Linked DNA regions of Homo sapiens: region 2 is linked to region 1. Evidence: fine-mapped expression QTL. A gene starts in region 1. The other region holds a variant in brackets. All regions are shown on one strand. Distances are from middle to middle. Region 1 holds the start of LASTR (lncRNA associated with SART3 regulation of splicing). Region 2 has its middle 11 kb from the start of CALML5.

Region 1 (5,236 bases):
TTCTCTCTCTCCCGTCTCATTCTCTCTCGTTCTCTCTTGTTCTCTTTCTCTCTCCTCTTGTTCTCTCTGTCTTGTTCTTTCTCTCCTGTCTCTCTCTTGTTCTCTCTCCTTCTTCTTTCTCTTGTTCTCTCTCTCCTCTCTCTTGTTCTCTCTCTCTCGTTCTTCTCTCTCCTCTCTCTTACATTCTCACTCTCTCATCTCACTCTCATTCTCTCCTCTCTCTTGTTCTCTCTCTCTCGTTCTTCTCTCTCTCTCCTCTCTCTCTTGCATTCTCACTCTCTCATCTCTATCTCATTCTCTCCTCTCGTTCTTTCTCTCTCTCTCATTCTCTCTCCTCTCTCTCGCTTTCTCTCTTGTTCTCTCTCATTCTGTCTCTCTCATTCTCTCGTTCTTCTCTCTCTCTCTGCTTCTCTCTCTTGTGTTCTTGCTCTCTCTTCTCACTCTTATTCTTGCTTTCCTCTCCCTCGTTCTCTCTCTTGTTCTCTTTCTCTCTGATTCTCTCCCTCGTTCTGTCTCTCTCGTTCTTCTCTCTCTCTCCTCTCTCGTTCTCCTTTTCTCTCATTTTCTCTCTCCTCTCTCTCTTGTTCTCTCGTTCTCTTTCTCTCATTCTTCTCTCTCTCTCCTTCTCTCTCTTTCCCTCTGTTGTTGTTTCTACCTCTCCCTTGGCTGCTTCCTATCAGGCCTGATTAATCTCTTGTTGGGGAGATCCTTCTCCCCTCAAGCTTCTTCAAGCCCTCTCTGCCCACTCCACCTTCCCCTTTCTCCCAGGGGCTTGGGGTTTTAGAACCAAAAGCTAGAAAAATGTGCAGGCTGTTTCTGCCCCGGCCTGCCTCACGCCTCCCTCAGGATTAAATGAGATAATAGTACATGTGCCTGGCTCACACAAGGACCCACTGAAGCCGCTGTTGGTGTCCTTGCGATTTGTACTCAGGGATATTGAGGCAGAAAGGTAAACAGGGAAGAGGAAAGGGGAAAATTCAGGGAGAGGAAACCTGAGGCATTCACATTTCAACACAGGCCATGACAGCGGCCCCTGGTCCCTGGTCTTCTGCAGCTGCTGGGGTCCCTCAGTACTAAAGGGAGGGGTGGGGAGCATCCCCCCATGAGGGGGGCATCCCCTGCTGCCCTCTCCTCAGCCACTCTCCTTTCTCAGGTCATGGCATGGATTTCATTTCCAGGAAATCCACTTCTAGCTCACTCGTCAGCAGGCCCAGTTGAAGGGACACAGCCTCATGGGGTCTCAGCAGGCCCCATTGGTGGAATGAAGCCTTGTGGGACCAGCACTCCCGGTTGGTGGGACGCAGGCCTGTGAGCTCAGCAGGCTCATTTGGTGGGACACAGCCTCATAGGGTCTCAGCATCAGCAGAGCTTTGGAGCCTCCAGTCCCCTCTGACACTGCCCTGCTGGGACTGCCCAGCCTCTGCTCAGACGCTTCCAGGGATGGGCCCTTCCTTTCCGGCTCCTGAGTCCTCCTCCTGGTGACTCGCCTGCTGCCCCAGGCGTTTTCAGGGGTGTCAGTCCCTATGTGTCCTCATCTGTCTAGGACCAGTGCCCCTGGGAGCACATGCCTGGCCGTCTGCTGGGAGCCGCTGGGCCAGCCCTGGGTAATTTCTGTGGGACATGCAGACCACGGCGGGCGCACCCTGTAGGTAGTCAGTAATGGCTCACGGATGACGGGTGTGAGCTGGAGCAGCAGTGGGCAGGGGCAGCTCACCTCTTTGCAGGAGGCGGGTGGGGCGGCCGCTCCGGGTGGCTGAAACCGATGGGGCAGGGCTGTCTTGACCACAGCTCGGGCCCAGGCTGCTCATCATCACTCCCTTTGCCCACCTGGATGGGGCTGCTCATGCATGGCCACTACGAACTGCACTCTGCATGTGTGTATGTGTGTGTATGTGTGTATGTGCATGTGTGTATGTGTGTATGTGCATGCGTGTGCGTGTATGTGTGTATGCGTGTGTGTGTGTGTGTGTGTGTGTGTGTGTGGTGGCCTGCGCTCTGTACACACAACCGCCCAGCAGAGAGAAAGAAGAGCACGGGATGGGAGAATCTCCTTTCTTTCCTCTGACGCTGTCAAGCCTTGTGGGTAAATCTGGAAGACGTGGTTGGTGGACAGTTAAGATTCCATTAAAAATGGGAAAGAGCCCCTGCATGTTGCCTTTAGGCCGTGATGCTCACAGCTGGATGAGTGTCTCGCCTGGCTGGTGCTTGCTTCCTTTGAACTCCTTTGCGAAGCAGGCTGGTGGTCTCCCGTGTGGGGATCAGACATGGCATTGGGTCCTGGCTGCACCCCACAGCTGGACCCCGAGCTCTTGTGAGTCTGGGCAGCGTCACCCTTCTGTTCTCCTGGAGTGGAAACGGGAGATGGGTGGATATGTTGCAGAAAAGCAGGATGACGGCAAGCCCCGAGGGCCCCAGCCTGGGTTTCCTGCACAGGCAAAGCTACTTGTGGGGGCTTGAGTGAAGAAGCCACAGTATATTACAACTCAGGAAAAAATCCACATTGTCTGTCCTGAGCAGCCTCATGGGAGGTGAATTAGAGGTGAGTCAGATGCCTTCGGGGGAGGAAATGACTTATCAGGCTGAACTTCCTTCAAAGTACGTCCATCCATCACTTGCAGAAAACAAAAGAGAGCAAGAGAGAAGACAGTGGGTGAAGTCCTGGTTCCAGACTCCCCTTTTTGCCGGGATATGATGGATCTGTCAGCTGGTGAGGCCCCTCTAAGAGGGGTGGTATCTTCGGGCCAGGTCAGGCCCATCTGGGAGGCTCAGGCATTTCCTGCAAGGGTGAAGGCCGCTCTCCATGCACTTTTAGGGTCCCCTGCTCCCACAGCGTAGCCACCCTGGCTCTTCTCCTGGTGAGAGTCTGCCTTGAGGGCTGAACGGTGCCACTGAGGAGCTGGAGAAGCTATAGCTTCCCATGGCAGCTTTTGTGGCCGGGAGTCCTGGTTCAGTCCTGTGCCTAGGGATTCTTGCTATTGCATGCATGCTTGTCTTAGACGGAAAGCTGGGGGAGGCACAGGACTTTCTGTCCGAAATGTTTTGTGCAGTGCTCAGCATGGTTCACCTCTCCTCACTGCCCCAGTATGATGATTTCTGCAAGAGTTTATCCTGATGATTCTATTTCCCCACTTTATAAAGGTGCCTAGAGTCCTAGAGAGCTAGAGATGGAGGGAAATTCAGATCATCTAAACCCTTCAGCCCTTCACTGGACAGAAGAGGAAACTGAGGCTCCATCTGCATGACGTTCCCAGAGTCACGGCACAAATTCATGGAAGAAGCAGCAGGAAACTCAGTTCTCCAGTCTGGGTCCAATGTGTGTTTTAGAAATATCTCCACAGGGTTAATGACTCAATTTTTCATGCATGATTGCTAGTAATGACAATCATGTTATGTTTGTTTCTGTAGCTTTGGAAATCACTCCTTCCACTTGAGTTTCAGGTCCCAACTGTCCACACCTGCAGGAGTGAGGTTTTGCTGAGACTGATAAGGCACTCACATTTTGTGGGAGTTGAATTGTCTCTGTAGCCTAGAATCTAGATTTTTTTCCCTCCTCTGCTCTCAGTGAACGGAGAATTCCATCTCGGTACAATCTGTGAACCATTCTGCAGTAAGATTGTCATCGTCTCATTCATACTACCTGGTCGGTAACACAAAGGGCTGTAATTGATGTGGTTCAGAGACTCACATCCAAGCAATAAAAATGAATCCCTTATGGTGGTCTGCAGCAACGCAAATGGATCCAGTGTCTGGCTTTAATGGGAGTGGGGAAATTGCTAACAGATGACGGTAACTTTCAGAGACAGACAGACACAGAGAGAGAGAGAGAGACTCTGGCCTTCCAGCTGAAACCACTTCTGATGGCAGCTCTTCCTCCCACATGTGCCTCACAGACGTCGAATATTTACGGGATGCCCTGAGCCCAGCCCTGCTCAGGGTTTAACAGCAGGGGCCATGTGTGTGTGACGGCTGAGGTCACGCAGTCGTTCATTTCAAGCTGTAGAGACATTTGGTTTTAAAAACCCCAGTGCCTCCACTGGGATTGGCTTTCGGAGAAGAAAAACAGCTCCTGAGTTCTTTTCCTGTCCAAGCCCGGGTGGGATCATGCTGCATTGCCAGCCTCCATTAACCCTTTGGGGCTGAGAAAGTTCTTAAACCTTGTGACTTTCTCCCGGTGATTTTTGCCTTTTTGAGGAAGCTGTGTGAGCTGCAGTGATTTCCTGTGAGCTCAATGAAAATGTGTCTGATGTGTATGCACCTGAGCTAGAAAGCCCAAAGACTGCTAAGAAGCCATGTGAGGGCTCAGAAACAAACATGTTGGGGCTTCGAAAGCCTGTTTTTGGAACCACTTTCCCTGTCTGCAAGGCAGAGGGAGGGAGGTACTCTGTTATTTCTAAGTCTCTCTTGAGCTCTTACACTGTGCAAGCCCATGAACGTATTTAATCGTGCATTAGACAATTGTTTTTAATCTATGCCCTGCCTCTCCCAAGATCAACCTTTCCCTGAGATCGGGGCCCCCTCTGGGTGCACAGGGATATTTTTATTTTTTGAGTTGGAGTTTTGCTCTTGTCACCCAGGCTGGAGTGCAATGGCATGATCTTGACTCACTGAAACCTCTTCCTCCCGGCTTCCAGTGATTCTTCTGCCTCAGCCTCCCAAGCAGCTGAGATTACAGGCATGCACCACCACACTCGGTTAATTTTTGTATTTTTAGGAGAGATGGAGATTCACCATGTTGGCCAGGCTGGTCTTGAACTCCTGACCTCAGGTGATCCTCCCGCCTTGGCCTCCCAAAATGCTGGCATTATAGGCGTGAGGCACCGTGCCCAGCCCATAGGGATATTTTTATATACTTTCCTGCCCCATGGGTCAACTGTTCTTGAACCAAAGAAACAAGAGGCGGGGAAGTTATAGGAAGCTTTTAAAATATGCTTCTGTGCAGCACTGCTCGCAGCGTGTCACAGATGTGCGGTATTGGAAGACGAAGGTGAAACTGCATGGAGATGATTGTGTGGGGGATGAGGAGGTGGTGGGTAGGGGACTTGGCTTTCTTCACACAAAGACATCCAGGCAAATGGTAAGTCCAAAAGCCGTGTGACAGATAATGGCCATTGTTCCTGCAGGGTGACTCTTTTCTTTTCTTTTTTTTCTTTTTGAGGCGGAGTCTCACTCTGTCATCTATGCTGGAGTGCAATGGTGCGATCTTGGCTCACTGCAACTTCCGCCTCCCAGGTTCAAA
Region 2 (5,236 bases), 110 kb after region 1:
CCCTCTCAGAACATCCATCATGTCATGGGAATACAGTCTGGAATCCCAGAGCCAAGGCCTGCTCCAGGCTTGTGGCCGACTTGGCATCAGGGAGTCTGGGTGCCCATGCCAGGGCTGTGGCCTTGGCAGTTGGACCCAGGGAGGGGGGCAGGGGTGAGCCCCCTACAAAGAGGGCTGTGGCAGGAAGCTCTGTGCTGATTTGGAGGTCTGGGGAATGGGCAATCAGAGAAGCATTAAGGAAGGAGAGAAGTGAAGCCACTCAGACAGCCTAGGGAGGCAGAAGACCTGTCTGGGGCAGACAGAATAACAGAGACAGGGTGTTCTAAGCCAGTTGTTCATTGTTGTTGAGCCCATTCTTAAGAAGGGCTTTGATGGGGCCACAAAGCAATAAGAAAGCAGCAGATTCTCTGAATCTACTGTCCCAAGAGACGAAGAAGGGAACTTGAGGGACTGGAGAGGAAGTGGCTCACTTCAGGTCTTAGAGCGAGGTGCTAAGAAGGACCTGGAGTGGAATTCAAGGGCTCAGAAGGGGGTCAGGGGACTGCCTTCAAGGGGTGCTTCCTGGGCATACTCTGCCCAGGGACTGGTTTTGAGGTGGGGGTCTGGTGGTGGGGTTGGTTGGGACCCACATAGTGGAATGTCTTCCGGAAGCTGGTGACTGTGAGTTACGAGAGATGCACAGACATGGCCTCTCTGCCGACTCTGAATGGCCTTGAAGACCCTCAAGGGCAGAGACCAGGCTATGCTCCACGTCTGGGTCCACAAGGGTGCCCGGTCTCAGCTCAGAACACCAAAGAGAGTAGACAGAGCCCAGGAAGCATCCGAGCAGCTGGCGCAGCTTCAGGTCACTTAGGAAAACCCAGTTCTTTGAAAGCTGCTTCTCTGAAAATTGACTTGCCAGAAGCTTAGTTCTGCAAATGGTAAACGTGCTGGTATTTCCCAACTTACTAAAAAGTTTTTTTTAAAGGATACTTAATAAAGATCACAGAAATTCATATTGGATGAGCTATTCTAAGTTGTTGACTATTTCTTTGACGTTTTATTTACTGAGTTTAAATTTTTAGTTTTGTTCAGTTCTACTTTTAGTAAATTATTTTAGCGGCAGTCAGTTCACCTAACCATTGTACCATAACCTGACAGTGTTTAAAGTTGTCTGTTTTTGTTTTGTTGTTTCATTTTTAGCATTTTGGTTCAATGGTTTTGGAGAAAGAGAGCTTCTGGTTCATTTCAAGATTCAGCCATTGGACACGTCTTCAACGTCCAGGATTTTAGAGATTGGCAGCTTTCTTTCCCCTAATAGAATTTCAACTTAAATCTATTGCTTTAGTACTTCTTTCAATTCACTGATTTATTCACTGGCTCAATCAAATGGATATTTTGCAAGTGGTTTAAGTATTTGGTAAGTGCTTGGAGTCTGAAATATGAATCACACATGAAACTGACATTCAGCAGGGGAGAACTGCACTCATGAAGCTACTGGAGTTGACTTGGGTGGGACAGCATTGGGGAAACCAAAACTAATTTCAAGTAAAGCAAAACTTCCCCCAAATCTTCCAAGAGGTTCTTCAGTAGATTGATTTGTCGGTAGATTGAATTACTCTACTTCTGATCCAAATACATGTTTCAAATTTCATATACGAAATAATACATTTTCTTCATTGGATTGCCCCCTGGATCTTTTAAATCCTAGTTTATATCCATCCTGGTAGGCCTGGTGACCCAATCCTTCTGTTAAGTTCCACATCAAATGCCTCCTGCTTTTGGAAGCTTTCCACAGCCGGGCCTGGCGCAGAGGGGGTTCCTCTGCACCTCTTTTCCAAGCAAATGGCTGAAGGTGATCTCTCCCTATTTGTACAGTTCCTTCCAGAGTGCACCTCTTACGTCATTCCTAGTGGACAAGGCCTATTCTCCATCCTCAGAACCCTGAATAGTGAAATAAAGCCCATCAATGCTTAAACTAGATGACAGGCTCCTCAAGTGTGTTGGATTCTGCATGAAACCCTCCACATGCACTGTGATGGCACGACCTGGCAGGCTCCTTTGCC[C/T]GGGAGGCCTCATCTCCAGCATGGGGGAGATGGCTTCCGTAGTGCTGATGGGATTAAAGGAAATCTTCACAGAGTTGTACTCTGCAACAAGAGGAAGAGTCAGAAATGCAACTGCAGAGAGAGGACTCCTGTCTTGTTCTCTCTTTTTGTTGTCCAAGAACCATGAAAATAGTCCTCGTATGATCACAAAATCCCAACTCATCCCCTCTTGGTCCAAACATAGGGAGAATCAAAGGCATGTCACCCTGCCAGGTAGTCAAAGATGTGGACTCCAGACCTCTAAGACCAGCTTTTAAGAGTTCAAGCCATTGTTTCTCTCTCCACAGTGGGTCCCCCTTTTATAAAAACAACAACAACAAAACTCATCAAGAACAGATTCCCAACAGGTATGGTGATCATGTGTTCCAGAAACAATTTAGGTAGAGTATTCTATCTCAGTTTCTCTGGAAATGAGTCCAGCTTTTAGTTTTTGCATGTGAACCACGGCCGCAGTGCCTAGGCTGCGCAGGTCGCCCTCCGTTCCCGCTGGAGAAGCAGGTGAGGCCTTCCCAGCCTGGGCCCAGTGCAGTCAGGCCCTGCCCAGCCCACAGATGCCTGCACCTTGCTCCTCCCCTGGCTTCCCTCTCACGTGGCTGCAGCTGGGGCAAAGGCCCAACGACTCCTTCTGTAAGCTTCTTCTTGCTTTTGCACTGTTTACCATCTCCAGGTGTGAGCTCATCTCTTTCCCCACCACAGGTGGCCCCACCCGATCTCAGCTCTGCCTTTCCCGCCTCTCTGCTGGGTTGCATAAGCCAGCGATTCCCAACCCCGGCTGCACCTGGAAGCTACCCCAGGAGCTTCTGGAGAATGTGCCGTGTGAGCCATCCCCCTGCACTGAGCCCTGGTGGGTCAGCGGTGGGGGCGCCCAGGCGTGGGGGTCTATTTAAAGCTCCCAGGTGCTGTGCGGCCAAGATTAAGAGGCACTGCTCCAAACTGTCCTGGCAACTCTGACTGTACCCGGCACTCCCCACGCCCAACCTCCCTTCTGCCCCTGGGCAGGTTGGCATCCAGTGTCGGGGAGAACCCTGGAGGCGAACGCCAGCCTTATAGAGCCCCACTGTTGGGAGGCCTGCAGGTTGGACAAGGCGAGGTCTGAGTCACCTTGGTTGGGAGCAGATGCTGCCCTGTTGGTGGCCTGCCAGCCTCTGTCCCCACCCCACCACTCAGAGACATGGTGTGCCTGCACTTTCCTGATCCGGGAGCTCCTGCCTTGCTGCCCAGATGACCTTTGGCCTAGGAAGAAGTCAAATCTCAGTGTTTTGGACCGGGCACGGTGACTCACAACTGGAATCCCAGCACTTTGGAAACCCGAGGTAGGTGGATCACTTGAGGCCAGGAGTTCGAGACTAACCTGGCCAACATGGTGAAACCCCATCTTCACTAAAAATACAAAAATTAAGGCGTGGTGGCAGGCACCTATAATCCAAACGACTCAGGAGGCTGAGGCAGTTGAATTGCTTAAACCTGGGAGGCGGAGCTTGCAGTGAGCCGAGATCGCACCACTGTACTCCAGCCTGGGCGGCAGAGCAAGACTCCGTCTCAAACAAAAACAAAAACAAAACAAACAAAAACAAATCTCAGTGCTTTTGATGAACAGTATTTTCCTGCACCGGGAGCCTTGTGGTCGTGGCTTCATGGAGGAGGTGTTGGTGACTTTCATTCACTCACTCACTATTCTACAAGTGTTTCCTTGGGTGCTTCTCCTTACTGTGAGTCTGCAGGGACTTGGAGGGAGACGCTGCGCCGGCCTCTGGGCCCAGGAGATGTAACATAAATGGCCATGCAAAGACAGTGGGTCAGGTCCCTCGTCAGTGGATTCCCATTCGAGGAGGTGCTCAGAGAAGGGGACAGACTTCCAGGAAGTGGCACTGAGGCGGGGGCAGATTTCAACAGGGGTGGGGCGTTCTTGGTGAGGAAACTGCATGAGTGACGGTTTGGAAGTGGGAGCGTCAGTGTCTTTTGGGGAGCCCGCGCTGCCTGGGAGGTAAGGGAGAGGTCCGAATGCCGTCGCAGACAGCCTGATGGTTTGCTGAAGGAGTCTGGATCCTTTTCAAGTCCCAGTGAAGCCTGGTGATATGGCCTTGGGCAAGTCAGTGGCTCTCTCTGCCTCAGTCTCCTCAACTGTAGCTGGGGGTAACAGTGAGACCCGCCTCAACGTGGTTGTGAGGAGGGTGGGGGGTGGGGGATGTGGAGAAAGTGCTAAGAACAGCGTCTGTGGGGCCGCAGAAGTGTTTTGCATAATGTCACCAAGATTAGTGCTATTTCTTCCCCAGAAGATCAGATGGAGACTCACGGAAGGTTTTTAACCTGTGGGGACGTGCGGCCAAATTGTGCTTTAGGAAGCTTATGCTGGCAGTGATGTGTGGTATGAAGGAGGGCAAGGGAGATGGGCCCTGTAGGAGGCAGATTCGGCCACCTAAGCCTGAGCTGATTAGGACAGGAGGGAAGGTGGAGGCAGTCAGCAGAGAAAGGAAGGGACGTGGGGAGGGGAAGCAGAGAGGAAGGCGTTGGAGGGACAGGGCCTGACTTAGTAACCCCGGGGCCTTGAGCAGTTCTGGACGAGGTGGGAGGGGAGTGAGCAGGGGACGGGAGAGACTCCAGCCCCACCAGGCTGAGCCGTGTCCACACCCTGCCGGGTCAGAGTTACTGCTGGTACCATCGGGAGGGTGGGCCAACCAGGCCCATCTGGCCTCTTGCCTGTCAGATGGTGGAAGCATGTCAGAGTTCTCAGAATCCTGGAGCCACTGAGAGCCGGAGGAGCCCTTGTCCAAGACTCAGGCTGTGATCGGAACAGGGTAGAAGGTGCTGCTTCTAACCCTGGGGCCTGCCTGTCTCCAGAATTTGGAGAAAAGGAAAGTCCTGGACTCCTCTCAAGCCAGGAAGGTGCTGACCAGGAGGGGAGGGTCAGGGAGAGGGGAGTCAGCAGGGACAGCTGCCTCTCCTCCGCCTGCAGGCCCAGGCCCTTCCTAATCTCCAGCTCCACCAGCTTCAAGGCAGAATCTGAATCCACACAGAGTCTGAGGTATCTTGGAAACCCTCTCCTTCCCTCTTGGATGTGTGGACTGTCAGACATTGTGAAGAGGAGAAGAGGAAGAGGAAAGACGCTGCCCCCAGTATGCAGACAGAGAGCACCCCGTTCCAGAGAGGCCAGC

Evidence for each region. PIP is the estimated chance that this variant, and not a neighbour inherited with it, causes the effect.
Region 2: its variant is the best candidate, but not a certain one, in a credible set for the expression of LASTR in sun-exposed skin (GTEx, PIP 0.59).

Annotation. Positions count from the first base shown.
Region 1 is chr10:5,593,482-5,598,717 of GRCh38, reverse strand. It overlaps LASTR (lncRNA associated with SART3 regulation of splicing), which reads left to right and starts at 2,600. Exons shown (of 2, transcript NR_134491.1): 1 at 2,600-2,707; 2 at 3,139-3,734. RefSeq lists enhancers at 1,240-2,112, 2,398-2,692.
Region 2 is chr10:5,486,436-5,491,671 of GRCh38, reverse strand. No RefSeq gene overlaps it. Among named protein-coding and RNA genes, the nearest start is that of CALML5, 11 kb to the left of the region's middle. The variant C/T (reference allele first, on the strand shown) is at 2,046.